6 separate regions of the Homo sapiens genome follow, and regions 2, 3, 4, 5 and 6 are each reported to be linked to region 1. The links are microRNA targets in miRTarBase. Many come from high-throughput screens and were not tested one by one. Region 1 holds a microRNA gene; each other region holds the end of a gene's coding sequence. Distances are between the middles of the regions.

Region 1 (4,089 bases):
CCTGTGATCAGCTATTCAGGAGACTGAGGCAGGAGAATCGCTTGAACCCGGTAAGCAGAGGTTGCAGTAAGCCACGATCGCACCACTGCACTCCAGCCTGGATGACAGAGCAAGACTCCGTCTCAAAAAATATATATAAATAAAAAAATAATAAAATATAATACTTCCTCGGGGTGTGATAAGGATGGAATAAATGCTTTAATATATGCAAAGCACTGGCAGCAGGCCTGGCCTATCATTCGTGCTCAATAAACATTAGCTTTTGTTAGAGTTATTATTAAATCATTCCACCAAGAGTGGCACGCAGATAGTGGTAGAAGCCCCGGGCGAGGTTACTGCCCTTTAGAAGTTCCCAGGCTAATGAGGACGTGAAGCATGAACACAAATAATGAAGATACAAGGGAGAAAGTGGAGAAGGATGCTACCGAGGTGCAAAAATGGCACTGGGGATGGGGGGGAGAGATTGCTTCCGGCTTGGGGTATCAGGGATGCTTGCCCAAGGAGAGCGCTTATGAGAGCTGGGCTTTGAAGGATTTGGCTCAGAAGTCATGAGGGATGGGAAGGACATGCCTGGTGGAGGGGACAGAGTGAGGAAAGGCTGGGAGGGAGGAAATGAGATGCATCCTAGGGAAGAGCCCCAGAATGGTGACGAGCCCCAGCTGTGGAGTCAGCTGGCCCTGGGTGACCCTTGAACTGATTAGGAATTCCCGAAGAGAATTCACAGCTCCACTACTGACTAGTCGTGTTGCTTTATCTACAGAGCCTCAGTTTCTTTGTCTGTCCAGTGTGGGTGGTGACAATCTGGGGGGTCCTTGTGAGAGTCTAATGTGGTAGCATGCATGTGCCTGGCACAATGTTGGCACTCCGGGTTCGCAGCCGCTGTTAGTTAATGCCAGCACTCAGGCGGCCAGAGGTGGATGTAAGCCCTACATCCAGGACCTTGAAGGCCTAGGAGGAGCCATGGCAGGAGCCACGGGCACCTACCAGCATCCCTGGGGGTGGGCAGGGCTTGGTGCCGTGCTAGCATCTAACCCAGCCGCGAGCTTCCTTCTGCAGGTCCTGGAGCCCTGGCGTGGGGCGGGCCTCCTGCCGGCGAGCGCCTGCGCCCTTCCCTGGCGTGAGGGTATGTGCCTTTGGACTACATCGTGGAAGCCAGCACCATGCAGTCCATGGGCATATACACTTGCCTCAAGGCCTATGTCATCGAGGAGCCACCGGAGCTGCCACTGCCACCAGGGAGGAAGAGGAGGAGCCGGGATGTGGGATGGCAGTGGTGGGTGGGCTGCGGCAGGTTGGGCCAGCCACACCTCACTGCTTGACCGCTCTGACCCCCTTTCTTCTCTTTCCTAGGGCTACATTGGGCTCCCAGGGCTCTTCGGCCTGCCAGGGTCTGATGGAGAACGAGTAAGTTTGCTTCTTTGGTTATTCACCATCCACAGCCACCCCTGCCCAAACAGAGCAGAACCTGCCAGGCACCAGCCTGGGGAAGTCAAGGAATTCCTCCTGGAGGAGGTGCACTTGAGTCGAGTAGGAGTCTGATAAGGGGACAAGTCAAGGCAGATGCATTCCAGGCATAGGGAACAGCATGTGCGAAGTCAGGGATTTACGGTAACTTGGCGAGTTTAACACTCAACACTGCCAAAGTGCTGCGTGAGAGGGTGAGAGTGGTGGGAGTTGAGGCTGGAGAGGACCCTGGGGCAATGTCTTAGGTGCCCAGGACTAAGGTTAGAAAAGGAACTCTGTTCTGAGGGTATGCGGAGCCTCTTGAGGACTTGCAACCAATGAACACCGGGCCCACTTTATAATATAGATCAGGGGTCTGCAAACGGTGGCCCATGGGCCAAATCCAGCCAGTTGTCTGTTTTTGCAAACAGTTTTATTGAACTCAGCCTTGCTCATTTGGTTACATATTGTCAATGCCGCTTTCTCACTACAATGGCAGAGTTGAGTAGGTGTGACAGAGACCGTATGGCCCACAGAGCCAAAGATATTCACTATCTGCCCCTTTCCAGAAACCATCTGCTGATTCCTCTTTTAGACAGATCAGTTGGTTTACTTGAGTAAAATGTGTTGGTTGGGGGTGGGGACAGCAAGAGCAGGTGGCAGGAGTTCCAGCAGCCAGGGGGAGCGGCTGTCTGGGGAAGGTGGTGGGACTGGTTTGGTGGTGGGCAGTGGGTGCTAAGATTTCCTAAGACACCCTGTCCTTCCAGACCAAGTATCTAAGTCAGAGGAGTCCAAAAGATGGTGTGGGAGCTTCTCACAGACCCCTGGCCCAGCCTGGAGGTCCATTAGAAGCCCCTGGGGTGGTGGCCTCGGGATCTTCCTCCCCGCCCCCTCCCAACCTGAGCCCGTATCTATGGGAACTCACTTGTAACCTCCATAAGCTGGGTATAGAGAACCTTAGGACAGCTGGAGCCTGAGCATTTATGAAGCACCTGCTGATTACAGGAACTGGCATTTCTCTGTCTCTTAGGTCACCACAGACCCCGACCCTGCCATCCGTCTGATGTGCATGTCACTGGGGCCGCCACGCAAGTGGCACACATTCCAGGCCCTCTGTGACTTCCTGCCGTGGGTGGCTCTGGGCTGGTTTGGGGCAAGCCTGGCTGTCCCTGCTGGCATCCTGCCCTGACCTCTCCCCTGTCTCTCCCCTGCAGGGCCTGCCTGGCGTTCCTGGCAAGAGGGGCAAGATGGGTATGCCGGTAAAGATTTTCCGTGTCTATTACGCAGACTCTAGCGGGGAACCCCACCTCCCACGGCCACGCTGCCCTGGCCACCTGCTGCCTGGCATCTTCTGCTTCTCCCCCTGCTTTGAGTGTGGGGGCCGCATGTGGGGTTGTCTGGCCACAGGACCTGCTGCTGGCACACGGCGTGACTGGGGCCTGGCTGGGGCTGGGGCTTCCATGGGCTCTGGACCCCTCTGGGGTAGCTCCTGTCTCCCTGTGGGCATCAGTGGCTCTCCAGTGCAGTTCTGTGTCTGGGGGCTTCTGTCTAAGGTATTTGTGTCTGTGGGTCTGCTGTGACCGGGGGACCTTGGCTAGACCAGGTGACTCTGCTCCCATCTCAGGGAACACTCAGTCTCCACATCGTCTTGGTGTCATCCGGCTCTGTCCAGTTTGCTCATGCACACGCAAAGCCAGAGGACAATGGGGTTTATGGGCAGTGCCCACAGCAGGCATGACCGAAAGAGGGGCTCAGCGGTGACCCCCAATTCACCAGCTTTCTCTATGGCTCCCCATCATGGGAGGAAATTGTTTTTCCCTTTGTTTGGACATGTGCAGAACATGGAGAAAGAGCCAAGGCACGGAGAGATTAAGTCACTTGCACGATGAGTAAACAATGCAGCCAGGATTGGAACTCAGTTGGTTTGTTCCCGGTGTCTTTGATCTCAGTGGCTGCTTGAGGCAGCCTCTCAGGGTCCCTAGTTGGCAGTCATATTATAAAAATAGGTTCCCTAGACTCTTCGCCTGGAAGGAAGATCATTCATTCCAATTATTGAGAAGCGGGAAACTGAGGCTCTGAGAGGCAGAATGAGATACCAGGGTCCCTCTGCCACTGCCCTGCAGGTTGACTCCTTGACTTGGAACCATGGTCAGACCAAGTCTGGGCCTCCCATCGCTGGTGGTTGGTGAGGAAGGGAGTATGAAGAGGAGGCCTGGAGCATTCGAGAGTGCTCAGAGGGGCCTCTCCGTGCTTCTGCCACTGATGGGCATGTTAGCTGTTGGAGCGTTTAACCTGGGCCCTCTGGGGGCCAAAGAGGAAAAACAAAGAAAAGAAAAAAGCCTCAAAGAGCTGACAGAGGAGGTCCCTCCACCCCCAACCTAGACCCCTCTGTGGCCCGAACAGGCAGTCTTCTCTAAGGTCCAACACCTGACACCTAGACCTGGGCAAGGAGCAGCACCTGATGCTCCCAGCTTCAGGGCAAGGACCTGGAGTCTGAGAGGGCTGGGCTGGCACATGGGGTTGTCCCTCAAGCCAGCATGACCTCAGGCAAGGAGATTTGTTCATCCAGTGATTATCTGTTCATCCCATGAATATCTGTTGAATGCCTGCTATGGGCCAAGCATTTTGCTTTGTTCTGGCAGAGCA
Region 2 (4,089 bases), not on the chromosome of region 1:
ATATGTAACAAGAGTACCCACTTTATTGACAACTATAAAATGATGTTCTATCTTTATGCCTTGGGCTTTCTTTCTGAAGGAAAAGTGAAAGTAAAGATGACTTTACGTTTATTTTAGACATGGCCTTGCTCTGTCGCCCAGGCAATCGGATGATCATGGCTCACTGTGGCCTCAACCTCCTAGCCTCAAGCAATCCTCCTGCCTTAGCATCCCAAGTAGCTGGAACTACAGGCACATGCCATCATATCCAGCTAATTTTTTATTTCCTGTAGAGATGGGGGTCTCACTATGTTGCCCAGGGTGGTTTAGAACTCCTGGCCTCAAGTGATCCTCTCCACCTCAGCCTGGGATTATAGGCGTGAGCCACTGTGCCCAGCATTAGTTTATTTGTAATGCTTTTTTACATCCTAGATGAGCACAATGCCTGGACTCCCCACCCGGCCCTGTTTTTATGATATTGATTTGGACCCTGAAACAGAACAGGTGAATGGATTATTCTAAACAGGTAAGTTGTTACTGGGTAATAATTTGGCTTTTTTCCTCATGTAGCTTATTTATGAATTATAGGGCTCAAACTGACGCTATAAAAATTCACATTCTAATGCTTTCAAAACATTTCTTTTCAGACTTCCCTGAGGGGAGAGGGGATAGTAATGAGAGTTGGCAATAACCAATGAATTGAAATATTTATATTTCAACACATTTTTGGAAGAAGCGCAGCATGGCTTGTCACAGGTTGACAGTGTAGGGGAGAAAACTGCTGTCCAATAAACTACAGAGGAAACTACAGGAGAGGTTAGACTCCCTCTGCTGAAGCCCCAGGAGGCTTGGGGTTCAGAGTTGATGACACATTGCAGGTCAGGAACAGCTGACGGTCTGTATACTCTGAATAGGTAGTTAGAAGGCAAGAATTAGCAAATGTCTTAGGAAGTATAATAGAAAAGAGAAGGAAACAGGACCAATCTGGCAGTTCTTAGGGCCTTAGGTGAAAGGGCCCTGAGTACCGACTGCAATGAGTGACATTGCATTGTTTGATATTTTTGAAATTTCAACAGGACGTGTCTCTCCTTAGGCAGACCCTTGGGGCTGAAGCAGCAAGTTGCAGTGTGCACTTATATCCCTAGACACATCCTGTTGAAACTGCAAAAATATCAAACATGAAAATCCTAACATCTTTCTCCAGAGACGAAAAAAGTGGCTTGCCTATGAAAAGAATGAGAACTAGACTTAACGCCCGTCTTACTGGCAATAAGAAGCTTTTAGACAATGGAGGAGTGTCCTGTAAGGTCACAGGGAAGATGACTTTCAACATGTGCTCACACCTAGCCGAATCTATCTGGATATTTTCAGACGTGCAAGGGTTTGCCACCCCACATCTCTTCCTAAGAAGTTATTTAGCAATGTACTTAGCAAAATGAGGAATTAACCAAGAAAAAAGGAAGACGTGAGTTTTGGGAAACTGAACCCTCATTTGGACATTAGCGAAGGGGCATTCTGATAACCATGCAAATGACCTGAAGTTACAAATCCTGTGTGGAACAGGTTGGGGGAGCACCTGAGAAAAACTAGAAAAAGCTAGAAAAGACAAGGATATCAAAGGGTCATAGTATAAAACAAAAGCTCTTGCATTATTTGAGAAAGTTAAGGTCCAAGTAGAAGCAAACTGTAGTTTGATGCTAGAACACTATTCTTTGAGAGGGTATGTGTGATACTCGAAATGCAGTCATGGCTCACGGCTTGGTCTGGTCTTGAACAGTATTCACACAGTACTATGGAAATACCATGCATCATTTTCAAGTCCATTTATGGACACGCCCTAGAAGAGCTGGTGGCAGGAAAGGATGTAAATGTTAACAGCTTTGGCAATGTGAGTGGGTAATGGTGCAGTATGGAAGGAACAGGAAACATTTCAGTGCTTGCTTAGAGAAAACATTTATTTCTTGTTTTTCCTTCCAGATCACCATCCATCTTCAAGAAGCTACTTTGAAAGTCTGGCCAGTGTCTATTCAGGCCCACTGGGAGTTAGGAAGTATAAGTAAGCCAAGAGAAGTCAGCCCCTGCCCAGAAGATCTGAAACTAATAGTAGGAGTTTCCCCAGAAGTCATTTTCAGCCTTAATTCTCATCATGTATAAATTAACATAAATCATGCATGTCTGTTTACTTTAGTGACGTTCCACAGAATAAAAGGAAACAAGTTTGCCATCTTGGTGTTGCAATATGAATTACAGCCTTAACAGACTGTGCCACAGGTCTCTGCCATCCTTTGTGAGCTCATTTGTCAGGCAGACCCTTGGGCTGAAGATGCAAGTTGCAGTGTGCCCTTTATGATACTGTTGTGTTTAGAGGGAAATGTATGCATGCTTGTGTATTTCTGAGAGGACACATAATTCAGGGGACCTCCTGAGAGGGTTGGGTTGGAAGTTGATGACTTACCTTTTAATCTTATACCTTTCTATATTGTTGAATTTTGTTTTTCTACCCTGAGGAAGTATTGCTTATACAAGTTTTTGCCTGAACTTCCTTGGAATTCCCATTTCTGTCACAGCTTTAGCACTGTCTATGTTTAGAGTGCTCAAGAAGGATGGTCATGCAGCATTAGCCTTAGGTGAGCCTCTATTCTGTTGGTGCAGCAAGTATTCATTGAGTTTCTTCTAAATGCCTGGGCTCCACCCTTCCCTACAGACTTTTTATTTTTATTTTTATTTTTTTGAGACAGTGTCTCTGTCGCCCAGGCTGGAGTGCAGTGGCGCGATCTCAGCTCACTGCAACCTCCGTCTCCTGGGTTCAAGTGATTCTCCTGCCTCAGCCTCCCAAGTAGCTGGGATTATAGGCATGAGCCACCATACCTGGCCCAGACTTTCTTTTTCCTAAAACATTAGGTTGGTAAAAACCACAATTACTTTTGCACCAACCTAATATTTTTTTTCCTCCTCTTCTGGCTGGGCGTGGAGGTGGCTCATGCCTGTAATCCCAGCACTTTGGGAGGCCGAGGTGGGCGGATCACTTGAGGTCTGGGGTTCAAGACCAGCTTGGCCAACATGGTAAAACCCTGTTTCTACCAAAAATACAAAAATTAGCTGGGTGTGGTGGCAGGCACCTATAACCCCAGGTACTTGGGAGGCTGAGGTACGAGAATTGCTTGAACCCAGGAGGCAGAGGTTGCAGTGAGCCAGGATCATGCTGCTGCACTCCAGCCTGGGAGACAGAGCTAGACTCTGTCTAAAAAAATAAATCAAATATTTTTCCTTCTCTTCTTGTTCTTTATCTTCTATCTCTGTTCTTCCTCTCCCATTTGTTTCCTTCCCTTTTTCCCCTTGTCTCCCTCCACTGGATCCTTCCAGAGGATGCTGCATCCCACTGGCGCCAGTGCTAAACACTGCTGATGTTGGCAAAGCAGTATTTTTCCCAGTGACCTTGGTTTTATTATTTTTAATTCCCTAGGTCCATGTCAATGTTGTAATACAGTCAATTTTACAGTCCACAGAAATGATAGCGCTGCCTTGAGAGGCATATGGCAAAGGGGTCACAGTGCAGAGCCCCAGCTCTATGGCAGAGAGCCTCACCCACCTCCCTGCCTCCACATCCTCACCATGGAAATAGGAGCACTGTTGGTACCTACCTCGTGAGGGCGGTTCTGGAATTACTCAAACACATCATCTAAGATGCTTTGTACAGGGCCTGGCACATTGTAAGCACTTGTCAGTTCCTGTTGCACAGCATCCTCCAGGCCCTGTTTGCAGAGTTAATTGCTTCTGGTACTTTTTTTTTCCTTTTTTTTTTTTTTTTTTGGCAGGGGGGGTAGGGGGGTTGGGACAAGAGTCGTGCTCTTTTGCCCAGGCTGCAGTGTAGTGACGTGATCTCAGCTCACTGCAACCTCTGCCTCCCGGGTTCAAGCGATTCTCCCACCTCAGCCTCCCGAGTAGCTGGGATTACAGGTTCGCACCACCATGCCTGGCTAATTTTTTGTATTTTCAGTATAGATGGGGTTTTGCCATGTTGGCCAGGCTGGTCTCAAACTCCTGGCCTCAAGTGATCCTCCCACCTCGGCCTCCCAAAGTGCTGGGATTACAGGCGTGAGCCACTGTGCC
Region 3 (4,089 bases), not on the chromosome of region 1:
CCCCACCTTGAGCCTGCTAACGATTGTTGAGTGCAGTCCTCACAGAAAACGGTACTTGTGCAGGAAAACAGTTTGGTTATGGGAGTATAGGATGACTCACTGACAAATGGAACCTGTATATTATAGGTCCCTCGATGAATATATGAGAAGGCACTTGATGGGCAAAACCATTAGGTCACTTCCTTCCACGTGATGATTATTGGCTCTGTCAGCCCCATTATCACAGAGTATTCAAGAAATACTTTGTGGTCACTGCCCTCTTAATATAGGGAGCAAAGCAGAGTTTGGGTGACTTGTATATGCTTCCTATGACTGAGGCCTCAGTTATATAAGACAGAATGGCTTAAACTAGGCTCACTCATGCCCAGGTTCTGTTTGTCTTCCAGGCTGAGAATCAGGCTGAAAGCCGGGCAGCAGTGGAGGGGACAGTGGAGGCTGGAGCTACAGTTGAAAGCACTGCATGTTAAGAGGGGGCACAGCCCTCCTCCCAAGGGAAAGTGTTTTTGTATATAATGTATTTTTTCACTTTTGGAGGATTCTTTTTGTATAACTTCAATAAAGATTGTAAGCAAAGGTTGAGGCTTTGATGGTTTTTTTCTTAATTATTGGCTGAATCTGCCTTGGAGCACTGCTGGTTTTATATATTAGCCAAAGGTTTTGTTCTGGCCTTCTGTACTGATCTGTGTTCCTGATCCTAATTCCTATCTGTCTAACGTGGAGGTGATCAAGTGTGGCTGTAGGCCTTTGTTTTCCAATGGTGCTATATTCTGTTTTCAAACACTTCACTGAACCCAGCTGTCTTGCAAACTTTCAGTGGTGCTGTCCCTGGATGGGGGCTACAAAAACAAGAATTGGTGAAGATCTTGCTCTTCAGTGCTGAAAATGGATGATGGACTTTGGCTGTGAGCCAGGCCTAGGATGGTTCTTGTCCTATATCCACCTAGTCTTCACCTGGGGCTATAATTCTGTCCTGGAAAAAGAACTCTGAAAACCTGGGTCAGGGGAATGATTCCTAAGGAAAACGGTCTGCATTTGAGCTCTGGTTTGAAAGTAGCCAAGGGGACTGATGGTGGACACTCCAGATGTGGTTGGAAGCATATGTGGGGAGGCTGGCTGGTTGAGTTTTGTTATTTTCTGTATAGAAAGGTTGAGATATATCAACACTTGGAATTGTTACCCATCTGCAGAATTGACTTCTCAAATAAAGATGCTAAAAATCTCCTTGTCTGGAATTATGTTTAAAGATCTTAAGTGGGGTCTTAGGCTGCTTTTTTGAGATGGGATCTTGCTCTTGTCGCCCAGGCTGGAGTGCAGTGGCGTGATCTCGGCTCACTGCAACCTCTGTCTCCTGGGTTCAAGAGATTATCCTGCCTCAGGAGGCTCCCAAGTAGCCAGCACTACAGGCTAATTTTTGTATTTTTGGTGGAGACGAGGTTTCACCATGTTGGCCAGGCTGGTCTCGAACTCCTGACCTAAAGTGATCTGCCCACTTTGGCCTCAGGAAGTGTTAGGATTACAGGCGTGAGCCACTTCACCTGACTGCCTGGAGCATTTCTGTGTGCGATAGAGGGTTTCAAAGGCAGAAACGAGCCCACCAGTCCAAGGATGCTGGTGGTGAGGGCACTAGTATTAATGTTAGACCTGTTGTGCTCTCACTGGTGTCTAGGGGTCAGGGCTCACTTGAGACTGAACTGCCTCTGACCTGACTCTAAGTACCAGTTAGGATCTGAATTCCAAACAATGCCTGCCCTATATCACCACCTCAATTTAGTAGTCATGACACCCATAGGGCTGCTTTTGTTGCACTGGAGGCAGAGGAAGCGATGGCCGGCCCCTAAATTCAACCCAATTTTTCAGACTAAGTAAGTTTTTCTGGGCTGGTCACAGTAACTCATGGTTGCAGGATCTCTGGCTTATCCTGGCTGTGGAGTTTCTTCCTGATGTTGCCCTTGCAGTATATGTTCCAGGTCCTGAGGCGCTTTGCCCCCTTTTCTTGGTCAGGACAGTCACGATGTAGTTTACTCCCAGGCACTTGACCTTCTCTGGTTGGCACTGGGATCTAGGGCTAGGCACAGTATCTAAGCTAGATCTCACATGTGACCCCTGGTTGGGGGAACAACCTTGGGCTGGGGACCTATCCCAGAATCAAAGTACATAAGGCCTCAGGAGCTTCCTGTTTATGGGTACATTGAGAACCTGAAAGGTTTCCTGGCAGAAATACTGAGGAAACGGATTTAAGTTTGGCAATAAAACTGGCTTTACCAAAAAAAGCAGTGGGAACTAGTGGGAATTTAAAGTTGCTTTAGTGGGAATTAATGCCCCCTAGTCACCTTTCGGAGAACTTCATAAGTGCCAGACAATATCACAAATACCTGACAAACTCATTTAATCCTTAATCTGTTTTACAAAAACAGAAGAGGTACAGAAAAGTTAAGGACTTAACGGGAGGTGGTAAAGCTGTGGTTGGAACTGGTTTTCTGTACTCAACTGCTAGATGCTTCTAGACCCAATGTCAGAACATGGAGTAGTAAACCTGTAGGTCTGGAAATAGGCCCCAGTCCTGTGCATGTTCAGATGCTCATCTCCACATTCACTTGGGTTCAGAAACTCACTGGGGGCAAGTCAGAACTGTGGTGAGGGCCCAAACCCTCATCTCTATCCTTGACTCCACTGAGGGGCTCTTCTGTACGAGGTGGGGGATCAGCAAAGCCAACTGCGGGGGTGAGGAAGCTGGCTTCCAGTGAAGATGTGCTGGACACCTGTGGAACAGGAGAAGGCAGGTTTTGAGCAAAAATGTAAAGGTTAAGCACACAGGTTTTGGAGTTAGTTAGGCTTCCTTAGAGTCTCACTTACTGTGAACCAAGTTAACCTGCTCCTGCTTTGATTTCCTTATCTGTTACATAGTAGGACTTCATAGAGATGTGAGGATCAAACAAGAAAGCATTGGTAATGACTGGCACACAGTGGTCAATAAAGGCTGGCCGTTAGCCATACCAGCCACACCGGTATGTGTAGCTGTGGTGTCCCTAGCTGCAGCTGGGCCCTCACCGGAGGTGGGTACTGGTACTCATGGACACTTGCTGGATTGATCTCTGCCAGTGTCTGTACAGCTGCATCTCTTGCATTCACCAGCCGCAGAAAGAGCTCAGCCTGACCTGCCTGGGGAGAGATGAAATGGTATTGCACTTGTACTTTGCTGTATGCCCAATCCCTGCGCACCACACTCACCTGAGGAATCCCATTCAGCTGCCCAAGGCTAAGGCTGGGGTCCAGAGGAAGGGCCCGAAGTGGGAGGCGCCAGCGGCCACTTAGCACCCGCTGATCTTGGTCAAATAGTCCAAGTGAGACCCAAGCCTTTGGCTGTGGTGCCCTAGCCCATGCTAGCCCCTGCCAGACCTGCAGCTCACAGACCAAAGATACTGATGATGAGGGTGGTAGTCTGTAGAATAACCAAAAAGCAGTGTCGGAAGCCAGAGCTACAGTCCCTTTCTAGGACTTAGCCCTTTAGAGCCAGCGGCCTCTGTATACAGATGAGAAAACTTAGCAGAATGGTGGATAAGCCTCAACTGTGGCAGAGTACCAGAGTCATGATCCCCACCTACTGACCTGGGCACAGGCTGCCTGCTGGCAAGGATGGCACAGTTGCCCATGGGCCCGGGAGCAGGAGGTGGGGGCAGGCAAAGGGCTGGGGGCAACGCTGTGGTCCTTCCTGTATCCCGTCCATCGCGTGCCAAGCCAGTCCTTAGTTGCACCCAAATCCAGGAAGCCTCAAGGCCCCGCAGGAAATCATAGAAAATGACCAGGCCAGCCCTGGGGAACACAAGTCTTAGCACAGAAATACCCAACTCCTTTCAACCTCCCTCCTCTCAGGCAGGTCCCTAACCCTATCTGGTCCTAGTGGGCTCCCTTAACCAGCAGTGCTGGCCAAGTCACAGAGGCTGTCGAAGGTGGCACGGGCCTCACCCAGGATCATAGGGTGCAGGGCCCAGCATGTCCGATGTGGGCAGGAGGAAGTGTGAGTCCAGGCCCAGGTTTCTGGTCATTGTTCCAGGAAGCTGTGGCTGTGGGGAAGAGAGCTGACTCCTCCAG
Region 4 (4,089 bases), not on the chromosome of region 1:
AACTACACACGATACAGAAGAATCAGTAAATTCATGGATTATTTTGCTGAGGTTTTAAATTTTAAAGCCTCTGTTTCAGAATTTTATACTTGATCAAGGAGAAAAATAAATGTGTAGTCTAACATTTGCTTTCTGGAGTTAATTAACTGATCTGTAAGAACCACTGCATATGTCTTAAAATGTAAACATATTTACATTTGTTGTATTTGTTATTGAGCCTTTAAGGTTAGGCCCAGAATGAACAGACCATAGCAAGTAAACAAATAATTTTTAGAATCAAAGTATTAATAGAAGACCAGTTCATGGATTTGCTTATTCTATCCTGCTGAGACAAAACTCATGAGTGTGCACACACATGTGAATATATCCCTACGAAACAGTCTATCTTCTCATAGGCTTAAATTATAGTCATGGCTATTAAAGAAATTAACAGCATCCAGCCACATGCAACTTTCCAACCTTCAGTACTATTAGGTGATTAAAATCAACAAATATGAAGTTTAGTTCATTTTTCCCTTAAAATTCCAACAAAGATCAAAAGGTTGTATCTAGAACTAATTGCCATCAAGTTCCAATTCAATGTCATTTAAAGTAATGTAACCACACATTTGGTATTTTCAATAGGAAGGTTAATTAGGTATTGTGCAAACTGCCTGCAACGGAAGCACTCAGTCCTTATCTAACTTGTCCCTTCCTGGCCCCAACATGCTAACTGCCCCATCCCCAATTCTGGGCAAACTGATCACAATGTGCAAAAAATAATATATTATCTATTTATAATTTTAAAATATATACAGCCAGCTCAAAAACAACAACAAACCCCATCAACATAGTCCAGCTGAAATCTCCACTGGTAGTCAAAGAAGTAGATTAAAGGAGTAAAGGAAGGAGAAGGCTGATAGGGCCACAAGAATGGACAGACATCAAGTAAAATTTGAGTCCCAAACATGCAAGTACATGAGCAGTGAGATAACTTATATATTCCAATAACCTATTTTCAACAACTCCTGCCCAAGACATGAAGATCAAATCAGGTTTCTGAGGTAAGTGTACTTCTAAACCATACACACATGAAAGCTATGAAAGCAATTCAAATGAGGCTGCTTCATGAGGCAATCTAGACTTATGGCATTATTTCTACTTTTCTCCATGTTTTAATTGCAGCCTGCACTTTAAATCTTTCCCAATAATTTTTAACAGTGCCTCTCAAATGCAAAGACACGTAAAAGAATTAATAACTAGCCAAAGAATTTTATCACCGCTTCACTCATTTATAAGAAAACCAATTATTTCCAAGCAAAATCAAACCAAACCAAAGAGGCTCCTGGTAGAAATGAAACAAAACTTTAAAGCTAGTTTTAAAACAAATATTTTCCTCTGCTCTAAACTACTCTGGCGTTTTCTACCACTCTACCATTTTGGAACATTCATTACAATAAGGTATATAGGTAGATGGTAGGAGGCAAAGCATTTATCAGTAGTTGAGCAAAACTGCTGAGGCCATTTATAATTCAAAGAATGAAAACTTAGAATAGTTTACTACATTAGAATACATCCAAGTTCCAAGAGTAGGACTGGAGCTCTCTTAAGGCAATCTTTCAGAAAAGATGTTGCATCTTCTGTGATGATGGTTTGTGTTTTTTTTGTTTTTGTTTTCGTTTTTTTTAATGAGATGGAGTCTCACTCTGTCACTCAGACTGCAGTGCAATGATGCGATCTCAGCTCACTGCAACCTCTGCCTCCTGGGTTCAAGTGATTCTCTCATGTGATGGTGGGTTTTTAAATGTTTTTTCCTTCTGAAAACCTGATGTGGTTTTGTCCCTACCTCTGAGAACTAAAGAATAATCCCCTTGTTTATAATAAAAGAAAAAACACGAAAGAATATAATGATGGTTTCATTTTTCTATATTTAACTCTGTGTGATCCTAATGATATCTGGGCTCACAAAATTATTTTGTGGACAGAATTCCATCCTCAAAAGAATTCTTTATATGGTTTCATAAGCTGCTTAACCAAGCTGGTTACGTCAGCTAAGTGACTAGCATAGCACTTAATGTTGCCGCTCTACTTTGCCTCAACTCAGAGCACCTAAAAAGTAGATAAATAAATTATGCACCTTTGTTATTTGTTAGTTTTTGGGATTACCTAAGCCAATCACATTTTAATTGCAACCCTATTTTAAGGGCAAAGCCAGACAGTAAATGGTTAAATGCCCAAGGTTTGTCCTACAGCTCAAGTACTTAATTTCATACTTGCAATAGGGCTTTTAGCTTCAGTGGTCCAGAATTTTAGCTTTACCAGAAGAACACTCTTCTTATCCTCCCTATGTTTGAGAGACAGAGATGCTAGCATTCTTCCTTATCCCTAAGTATTCCTGCTGGGGAGTCCCAATTGGAGAAATATTATCTTTCTACTTGTTTAAAGTTTTGGTTGCAATCCATTAGGGTAATGCTGCTCCATGGCAGAATGACAAAAAAGAAAAAAGATTCTATCTTTACCACCATAATAATGATGATGATATATGATGAACATACTGTGTGAAGAAATCTCCTTAGAGAAAACAAAGTATATAAGAAATATCAAATGTGGGACTGTAACATATTCCAAAGCACCAACAATCCATTTCTTGGGACTGCATGTAAACAGCAAAGACATCACAAATTCATGAAATTTGCAGACAACAACAACAACAAAACAGCTCCTCAAGTCAGGTGACAGTAATGCCCCTCTCTTGCAAAGAGAACAAACTGTCATTAGTGTAACATGAAGAGCTGGCTTTCCAGTGAATTTTACTAATAAGGAAACACAAAAGGTTACAGACTTGAGTGAAACTACTCAAGGAACATAAAAGCTAAAAGCCAACTGATAAGTATGTCTTCACACATTTCTCAGGTGAATGGACTCTTTGACACCTTCATTTCTTCTCCAAACTGCTGTGCTATTAATTTTGAGCAGGCATATTCTGGTGGCTCATCCTAACTCTTTAAGGCTCCATTCATCCCGTGTGTGTGTGTGTGTGTCTGTGTGTGTGTATACACACATACACAGATATATATTTACAACATGTATTCCTAAGACAAAAGAAGTGCCACTCATAGGAGAAAAAGAGGATAATCAGCTACGGATGTGAGACCAAAGTTTCCATAAAATAGCATGGAGCATTCTACGTTACTCCAATTTTTGTCTTTTGGTTTGGCCCTGAGCTGTTTGTTGCTCCCGCATCAAGTAGAATTCCAAATTCTCCTTCAGCAGAGGAAAGGTGAGGTGGGCAGCAGTAACAAATATGCAGTGCATGCTGCCAACCCAGGAGTTTGTTCCTCACAAGGCCTGACGGGTAGTCTTCCCCACTTCCGTGCTAAGTGACTGAGAGTTCTTTTCTGTTTCCAGCAGCTCATCAAAGATCTCCCTTAAGATAAAACAAGCAAAAAATAAAACTGGAAATTTAGTAAGCAGAACCAAAGAATAGGCAGGAGAAAAAGTAAAATAAAATTGATATGGATAAGGCCTTCACAATTCCATTTCATGCCTGTATTTTATTTAAAAAGCAGCTCACTCATTTGATCTTAACCCTTTGAATGCTGATTTTTAAGAATAGAGGGGAACTGACAACAGTTAGCTTTAATGAACATGCTAGGTAATTCCCATCCATATAAATCAGATCTTCTAGCTGATAAAACTGGATGACCAAAACTATTTATGACAGGACATCTTCTATCATAAAACAAACTGTCTTAACTTCCATACCTAGATACAACTGTGTAATGAGCAATTAATGCTGAGTTATGAGAGAAAATATTCTGGACTTACAAGGAAATATCAAGAGATAGACCCTAACCAAAGATGATAAAAACCAAAAATTTTCAACCAATCAACTGATGGAAACATTTTATCCTCAAAGGAAAAAAAAAAAAAAAAAAGAGTTCCGGTGATTTCTAACTCATTATTTAGAATCTGGCAAAGTTTCTTACTTGTGCATATAAAAGAAGATGTAGCCACTCCGATCTCGATCACTCTGCACGGCAGCCTCTTGGATTTTTGATACCTCCAGGTCATTGTAAGTAAACCACGCTTGCTTCTTAATGTCATATA
Region 5 (4,089 bases), not on the chromosome of region 1:
GGATCTATTGTAGGTAATTATTCTGAACAAGTTGTCACTGCCTGAGAGACTGAATACCTGGTACATCTCTCAGAAATGTTAACTTTTTTTTCCCATTATGGTATTTTCTTTAACTTGCTGTTTCTAAGAATGGGATCCTATTAATGTATACCAGTTACTAAGGTTTTGTTGAACTTTTTTATATAGCCTCCCCACTCCCCACTCCTTTTGTGACATCTAGTTATGGGACCCAAAAAAGACATTTTCCCAGGTTTCAGAAGAGGAATATTGGTGTTTCTCTAGAGCAGTTGGTTTATCATACAGCAGAACACTGAACACAGAACTGATTGTGTTGGATGCTAAGAACCTAGCCCAGAGCCCAACTTTATCAACTGTAGTCTTACAGCATCTACTTTGTTTTAAGAACATTTTGGGCCAGACGTGGTGGCTCCTGCCTGTAATCCCAGCACTTTGGGAGGCTGAGGCCGGTGGATCACCTGAGGTCAGAAGTTCAAGACCAGCCTGGCCAACATGGTGAAACCCCGTCTCTACTAAAAATACAAAAATTAGCCGGGTGTGGTGGTGGGTGCCTGTTAATCCCAGGTACTTGGGAGGCTGAGGCAGAATTGCTTGAACCCGGGAGGCGGAGGTTGCAGTGAACCAAGATCATGCCACTACACTCCAGCCTGGGCGACAGAGCGAGAGTCCGTCTCTCAAAAAAAAAAAAAAAAAAAGCATCTTGGAGCCAGATGGTGTATAAATACAGCATTCTTTTCGAAATCTTTCAAGATCTTCTCAGGGGTATCTTGAAGGTCTCTTTCACCAGCACACCTGACTGTGGCAGCCCTTTGGATTCTTTATACTTTTCTGGTATAAAGCCTTCAAATAGTTCCAGTTGGCTGGGCATGGTGGCTCACACCTGTAATCCCAGCACTTTGGGAGGCCGAGGCGGGTGGATCACTTGAGGTAAGGATGGCAAAACCCCATCTCTACTAAAAATACAAAAGTTAGCTGGGCATAATGGCATGCCCAGTAGTCCCAGCTACTTGGCAGGCTGAGGTATGATAATCGCTTGAACTTGGGAGGCGGAGGTTGCAGTGAGCTGAGATGGCACCACTGCACTCCAACCTGGGTGATGGAGTGAGACGTCTCAAAAAAAAAAAAAAAAGTTCCAGTAGGTGAACTGAGTTTAGTGACACAGGCCAAAGTCAGTAAAACCTGTTTCTCAAAAGACTTGCTTATTAAAAAGCAAAACATAACTTCATCCATTATTTAAATATCCAGGTATTTGTAGAAGGCCAGAAGCACTAAAGGATACAATTCTCTCATACTGGGTCCTTATTTTATCCAGTAGAAGGCAAAACATAGTATTCCAGAAACAAAAGTAGTTTTTTTTTAAAATAAAAGAGAACAGACATAGATGCTTCCCTAACTCCAACTATGAATGTTATTGTCAGTTCTGCTATTACTAGCTTTTGACTCCAAGCAGTAAATATGAGATTTTGGACATAGGTATGGGCAGACTGCATGACTAAAACACCAAAAGCAATGGCAACAAAAGGCAAAATTGACAAGTGGGATCTAATTAAACTAAAGAGTTTCTGCACAGCAAAAGAAACTATTATCAGAGTGCACAGGCAATCTACAGAATGGGAGAAAATTTCTGTAATCTATCCATCTGACAAAGGGCTAATATCCAGAATCTACAAAGAACTTAAACAAATTTACAAGAAAAAACCCCATCAAAAAGTGGGTGAAGGATATGAACAGACACTTCTCAAAAGAAGACATTTATGCAGCCAACAAACATGAAAAAACGCTCATTATCACTGCTCATTAGAGAAATGCAAATCAAAACCACAATGAGATACCATCTCATTGCCAGTTAGAATGGCAATCATTAAAAAGTCAGGAAACAACAGATGCTGGAGAGGATATGGAGAACTAGGAACACTTTTACACTGTTGGTGGGAGTGTAAACTAGTTCAACCATTGTGGAAGACAGTGTGGTGATTCCGCAAGGATCTAGGACCAGAAATACCATTTGACCCAGCAATCCCATTACTGGGTATATACCCAAAGGATTATAAATCATTCTACTATAAAGACACATACACAAGTATGTTTACTGTGGCACTGTTCACAATAGAAAAGACTTGGAACCAACCCAAATGCCCATGAATGATAGACTGGATAAAGAAAATGTGGCACATATACACCATGGAATACTATGTGGCCATAAAAAAGCATGAGTTCATGTCCTTTGCAGGGACATGGCTGAAGCTGGAAATCATCTCAGCAAGAACAGAAAACTAACACAAGAACAGAAAACCAAACACTGCATGTTCTTACTCGTAAGTGGGAGGTAAACAATGAGAACACATGGACACAGGGAGGGGAACATCACACACTGGGGCCTGTTGTGGGTGGGGGACTAGGGGAGGGATAGCACTAGGAGAAATACCTAATGTAGATAGGTTGATGGGTGCAGCAAACCACCATGGCACGTGTATACCTATGTAACCTGCATGTTCTACACATGTACCCCAAAACTATTATTAAAAAAAAAAAAGATTTCATATTTGCTGATATCTCAAGGAAGCAGTATGCTGGAAAAATAGAGGTAAAGTGAATAGTAACATAAAGGAAGCTACAACTCACCAAGTATCAACAGAAATGACCAACACTCCTTGGGTGCCAGAAACCAGCTTAGCCAGGGTGCATACTGTACCACTGGAGAAGAGGTAAGCTGGGTTAACTTCGAAGAAACCCTGGCCAACTTAAATTATAGTTTAATCCTGTTTTACTTGGACCACAACACTTAAATCTAGATAAAAACCAATTATTCCTCCCTGTTTCAGTTGCCAAGCAAGGAAAACAGCTCCTCTGCCCAAGCTTTCTAGGTCATATTCTTCATATCTTTGTATCCCAACTTTCTGGATCTGAATTTTATAGCTAACTATAGGGCATTGCCTCTCTACCATCTCCCGTCCCCTACACAGACACACACACACATACACACATAAAACTACCTATTAATTACAATAATGTTTATATATCTTTGATCATTTTTTAAAGTTCTTTGAACATGTTAGCAAACTTTATACTTCCTATCTTTTAATTAAATTTTCTTTAAATAACTAAGCATTGAAAACTTTACAAACCATCAGTTATCTTAAAATGGTTGAGATTTTTTTTCCTTTTTTCCCATAAAGAGTCTACACCAGGGTGGGTCTTTTAGACACCCCTATTTTCTAAGGGCATGTAATCGATTCTCAAATCAACTTTTTCCAAATACAAATTCCTGTATGAACAGGGCCAGTCTATGGTAAATTAATTTAGATGATGGTGTTAGTTTTCCAAACGTCTTTAATAAGTAAATAAAGGAGCAATGTAAAATGTTGCAGTTTGCTTGGTAAATCTTAATTGCGAAATTTCTTCTTCTTTCGGAACTTTTTTCCTGCTGCATTTGCTGCTTTTTCAGCCATGATCTCTGAGTACTTCCTTCGGTTGTATCTGAAAAAGAAAAATCAGAACTTTATGTTTGATATATCAGACATTAGAAGTTAATATAACCTTAGGGTAAAAGTTGGGAATGGAGTGGTGGACAAGACAAGTATAGTCTCTGACCTCATAGCACTTGCTTGCAATCTAGGGAGAAAAAATGGCAACTGTAGTAGGAAGACTTTCCTACTATATGCACTATATCCATCTATCTATCCATATATCCATATATGATCTATATATGCACTATATCCATCCACCAGGCTGTATCAAATGCTTTAAACATTTTTGAGGGATAAAAACACAAAAATCAGGACTAAGCAAAACAAAAAGTCACACTTATCCTGAAAATGCACAGTATGATATATATATTTCTTAGAAGCGACCAATGGTTTTCAAAGTGTGGTCTGTGGAGTAGACCCTTTCAAGGGATTCATTAGGTAAAAACTATTTTCTCAAGAATACTAAGGCATTAATCGCTTTTTTCACCCTCGTTCTCTCATGAGTGTAGTGTTTTCCAGGGGCTACGTGATGTATGTTATCTGCAGAAGCAGGTATGAGCCTCTGTCTTTAGTTAAGCCAGACATTAAAGAGATTTGCACTAAA
Region 6 (4,089 bases), 11 Mb from region 1:
CGCCTCCCGGGTTCAAGCAGTTCTCCTGCCTCAGCCTCCTGAATAGCTGAGATTACAGGTGCCCACCACCATGCCCGGCTAATTTTTGTATTTTAGTAGAGATGGGGTTTCAGCATGTTGGCCAGGCTGGTCTCAAACTCCTGACCTCATGATCTGCCCGCTTCGGCCTCCCAAAGTGCTGGGATTACAGGCGTGAGCCATGGTGCCCGGCTGCCCCAGCCTCATTTTAATTTCCAAAGCAATATCTTTTTATTTATTTAACATATACTTGTTGAAATTCTATATGTGTTAGGATTTTCCCCCCAGTAGCATGAATTATATGGTTTCCACGTGATACAGAGCATAGTGTCTAGCAACAATAGGCCTCAGTAAACATTTGTGGAATAACTCACTAAATGAATATATTACATTGATTCATCTGAAACTGTCATTTTTAGAGGTCAAAATGGTTAAATATCAGCAATTCAATATTCAACAAATATATTAATAAGAATCATTCCAGTATAAAAGTGAAAATACATATTACTCCTTGACACTGTTATCAATGTGTATAATTTTCTTTCATTAGACTACAAAACTTGACTTTTCTCTTCTTTGCCTACCAGGAAACACGAAATTATCCAGAATCATATCCACAACTGCCAAGGGATGAAACAGTGGAGAATCCTCATCTCCAGAAGCACATTTTGGAATTAGCATCCATTCTGGATGTTCGAAACGTGTTCTTTGAGAATACCATTGATGACTATTAAAACAAAAACCCTGTTGTCGAAACAAGTTTTCATTTTCCACAAATTTTAAATGGTGCAGTTTTCTAACGTGATAAGACACATAGTGGTGTTACTTAGTTTTTATTTTTTAATTTAGGGCCACCATTTTAAAAACAAACAAAAAAATGTTCACACTTTTAGGGTAACTGTTTTAAAATGCAACCTTTCAGGTCTTTTAAAATCTTAACCTTGGAATTTTTATTTTTTGATTTTGAGGGATGGATATTTACCTCCAACTTCTAATCCTACACTCAAATAGTCACTATTCTCACCCTGAGAAGAGTAAATCATTTATTTTTGTATAATGAGGTAAATCCAACTCTTATACTTGGACCTAAGTTAAATGTCTGGATTTGGAAATATGTAATGGTTCATAATGATGAAGCTAGCCACCATGGACTACTGAAAATCAAGAACAGAGTCCCTCCATAATATATTTTTTCTCATTCCAACTTAGCTGGTAGAAAAATGTTTGATCCTTTGAAACATGATCAAGCCAGTTTTTTGAAATCATTTAATTTCTTTCAATACTGTCATAATTTCAGAAATTGGATTGAATTGCATCTGAAAGCTACATCTTGATTGAGGACTTGAGGTGGTAATATTACTTGGAATGTATGAGTATTATGAGATTTATTTGCATATTTTCTTTGTAGTCTGTGAATGCTGGAAATGAAAAAGGAAACAACTTTGAAATATTTTAGTCAAAAAACCATGTCATTGGTTTCATAATACAATGTCTCCAATAGGAATTCTATTTAAACTCTTGGTTTATGAGATCACATTTAAAGACTGGATTGATGTCTGTGACATAAAGTTTTAATTTTTTGCCTCATTCAAATTTATGAGACTTCAAAGTCATAGATGTTTTAAATTTTGGTAAGGGGTAACTGGGTGTTATGAAACCTAAAATGTAAGTTGATTTTGCATTGGTAATTTGGAAATAAGATTTATTAACATTCCCTGTATTTAGTATTTTATATTCATGCACAAAATTTTTATTATCTTAAATAGGACTCAGTGTATATTATAAAGATTTTTCTTTTTTGTGTTTTCCTTCCCTGTCATTCCCTTTATAATTTCACAGTCACTTGCTATGAAGTCCTCCCTCCTTTTTGATTATGCAGCATTCAATTTCAGAAATCTATGAATGAGAAGGCCTTATACCTAATTTTCTGTACAGGATCACATCTGGCAGTCCCAGGAGAAGTGAGCTGATTGCTTTTGATATCTCTTTCCCATGGCCCTAGGTAAATTATACTCTAAATTTATTTATTTTTTTTGAAACAGAGTCTTGCTTTTGTTGCCCAGGTTGGAGTGCAGTGGGGCTATCTCGGCTCACTGCAACCTCCGCCTCCCAGGTTCAAGCAATTTTCCTGCCTCAGCCTCCCGAGTAGCTGGGATTACAGGTGCCCGCCACCATGCCTGGCTAATTTTTGTATTTTTAGTAGAGACGGGGTTTCACCATGTTGGTCAGGCTGGTCTCAAACTCCTGACCTTGTGATCTGCCTGCCTCAGCCTCCCAAAGTGCTGGGATTACAGGCGTGAGCCACCGCACCTGGCTATTATTTTTAACTTGGTTTTCATTTCTGGCATAGAGACTAATTTGGGTCTAAGTTATTCCCATTCCTGCTTTGATTTGCTGATTTTTCAAACCTGAAGTCCAAAGTTACTGTTTTTGGGGTTTGGGGACTTGGGGAGTATTTTACTTTTTTTTTTTTTTTTTTTTAAGAGACAGAGTCTTGCTTTGTTGCCCAGGTTGGGGTGCAGCGGTACATTCATGGCTCACTGCAGCCTCAAATTCCTGGATTCAGGCAATCTTCTCACCTCAGCCTCCCAAGTAGCTGGGACTACAGGCATGCGCCACCATGCCTGGCTAATTTTCTTTATTTTTTAATTTTTTGTAGAGACATGGTCTCACTTTGTTGAGCAGGCTGGCCTCAAACTCCTGGGCTCAAGTGATCCTCCTGCCTCAACCTCCCAAAGTGCTAGGATTACAGGTGTGAGCCACTGTACCTGGCCTGTTTACTTTTTAAAAATTTTTTTGTTTGTTCTTTCAAACAGTATTTCAGAAAGCTTGGGAAAAGTTACCCTGGAAAGATTTCCTTTGCTAGTGGGTTTTCATTTTCAGGTAAAGACTGCTTTCCTTTTTTTTCAGTATCTTAATAAACTTCATAGCTTTCCTTTAGTAACAGTGTTCATTGAACTACAGCAATAGACTATCTTCGGTTTTCTGACCTCTTGTTTCAATTCCCCTTAAGTCCTGTGCCAGTTATGCTCCTACCAACACAGAGTTTCCTGTCCTCTAATGTTTAAAATAGTATTTACTGTTCTGAGCTTTATCCTCCCCCGTTAAGCATAAAGAACACTGGTCTGAGAACTAGGAGACCTAAGTTCTAGTCCTGGCTTTCCTGGTAACTTAAGCGTTATGCCCTTTGACAACTGTCTTCATGTCTCTGCTTGTTAGCACTCTCATCTGTAAAATGAAGAGGTTGGCCCAGGTCTTCTCCAACTCTGATTCTGTAATTTGGACTCTTGGTTCCAAAAATATTGATTTCCCCACTCCAACCACCAAGAGAACTATTTACCCTGTTTGTAGTGTACACAACCTTTTCTTTTGTAAGTCATATTTACCTAGATTTTGTTCAAGAAAATCTGGGTCCCACTTAGCTGTTTTAGAAACTAGTACAGACAGAGACTCTCCTGAGGAAATTAGAGCTTTTATGATTAGAAACATGCTTGTCTAAAAATGAGGGTCTTAGAAATCACAACATTGACCCTTATGATGTTGCCCCTTAAGCTAATAGTGTAATTCCTTACTGGTAGTTAAAAATCTAAAGTGGACTGAAGTGATCTTGAATCTTCAAAGAGAGGAAAACTGTGCTGGAAAATGTTATTGTTTCATTGATGCCTTCAAAAAAATGCGTATTAAACAAAGACTATACTCCAGATTTTCTTCTGGGCATTGGGGAAGCAAACAAAATAGACTTAAAAATCCTCATGTTCATGAAGCTTACATTCTAGTAGAAGGAGTAAGGCAATAAACATAAGTAATTTATGTTAGAAAATGTTAAGTAGGATGGAAAAGTGTAGATTATGGTAAGGTAAATCTTTTGTTTGTTTTCTTAAGAGAAGAACAATGTTTAAAAGAGTGATCAAGCAGGGCATGGTGGCATGACCCTATTAGTCCCAGCTACCTGGGAGGCCGAGGTGGGAGGGTCACTTGAGCCCAGGAGTTTGTGGCTGCAGTGAGCTGTGATTGCACCACTGCACTCCAGCCTGGATGGCAAAGCAAGACCTCGTCTCTGGAAAAAAAGAA

Evidence for each region. Region 1 holds the annotated microRNA hsa-miR-455-3p (GCAGUCCAUGGGCAUAUACAC, at 1,163-1,183, shown strand). A microRNA usually pairs through its seed, bases 2 to 8, with sites in the 3' UTR of a target mRNA and lowers its output. Matches are read on the target gene's strand: a 7mer-m8 pairs with bases 2 to 8, a 7mer-A1 pairs with bases 2 to 7 and ends in A, and an 8mer does both.
Region 2: miRTarBase lists MTHFD1 as a target of hsa-miR-455-3p. The part of its 3' UTR that is shown has no 7-base or 8-base seed match.
Region 3: the mRNA of NASP is a reported target of hsa-miR-455-3p. Seed matches in the 3' UTR shown: 7mer-A1 at 1,061-1,067.
Region 4: the mRNA of USP37 is a reported target of hsa-miR-455-3p. Seed matches in the 3' UTR shown: 7mer-A1 at 669-675.
Region 5: the mRNA of DNTTIP2 is a reported target of hsa-miR-455-3p. The part of its 3' UTR that is shown has no 7-base or 8-base seed match.
Region 6: miRTarBase lists SCAI as a target of hsa-miR-455-3p. Seed matches in the 3' UTR shown: 8mer at 3,611-3,618.

The regions. Positions count from the first base shown.
Region 1 is chr9:114,208,325-114,212,413 of GRCh38, forward strand. It overlaps MIR455 (microRNA 455), which reads left to right and starts at 1,110; the gene lies at 1,110-1,205. COL27A1 (collagen type XXVII alpha 1 chain) reads left to right here. Exons shown (of 61, transcript NM_032888.4): 11 at 1,351-1,404; 12 at 2,658-2,702.
Region 2 is chr14:64,457,803-64,461,891 of GRCh38, forward strand. MTHFD1 (methylenetetrahydrofolate dehydrogenase, cyclohydrolase and formyltetrahydrofolate synthetase 1) reads left to right here. Exons shown (of 28, transcript NM_005956.4): 27 at 412-505; 28 at 1,957-2,223. The coding sequence ends at 501. It also overlaps a transcript of ZBTB25 not described here. Among named protein-coding and RNA genes, the nearest start is that of AKAP5, 5.7 kb to the right of the region's middle.
Region 3 is chr1:45,617,675-45,621,763 of GRCh38, forward strand. NASP (nuclear autoantigenic sperm protein) reads left to right here. Exons shown (of 15, transcript NM_002482.4): 15 at 387-1,219. The coding sequence ends at 467. It overlaps CCDC17 (coiled-coil domain containing 17), which reads right to left. Exons shown (of 13, transcript NM_001114938.3): 9 at 3,964-4,061; 10 at 3,607-3,810; 11 at 3,229-3,439; 12 at 3,049-3,159; 13 at 2,370-2,759. The coding sequence ends at 2,601. Among named protein-coding and RNA genes, the nearest start is that of CCDC17, 4.3 kb to the right of the region's middle.
Region 4 is chr2:218,451,612-218,455,700 of GRCh38, forward strand. It overlaps USP37 (ubiquitin specific peptidase 37), which reads right to left. Exons shown (of 26, transcript NM_020935.3): 25 at 3,969-4,089; 26 at 1-3,406. The coding sequence ends at 3,319. It overlaps VIL1 (villin 1), which reads left to right. Exons shown (of 20, transcript NM_007127.3): 20 at 1-1,684. Among named protein-coding and RNA genes, the nearest start is that of VIL1, 35 kb to the left of the region's middle.
Region 5 is chr1:93,866,450-93,870,538 of GRCh38, forward strand. DNTTIP2 (deoxynucleotidyltransferase terminal interacting protein 2) reads right to left here. Exons shown (of 7, transcript NM_014597.5): 7 at 1-3,495. The coding sequence ends at 3,402. Among named protein-coding and RNA genes, the nearest start is that of DNTTIP2, 11 kb to the right of the region's middle.
Region 6 is chr9:124,949,470-124,953,558 of GRCh38, reverse strand. SCAI (suppressor of cancer cell invasion) reads left to right here. Exons shown (of 18, transcript NM_001144877.3): 18 at 606-4,089. The coding sequence ends at 752. Among named protein-coding and RNA genes, the nearest start is that of GOLGA1, 10 kb to the right of the region's middle. RefSeq lists an enhancer at 3,126-3,175.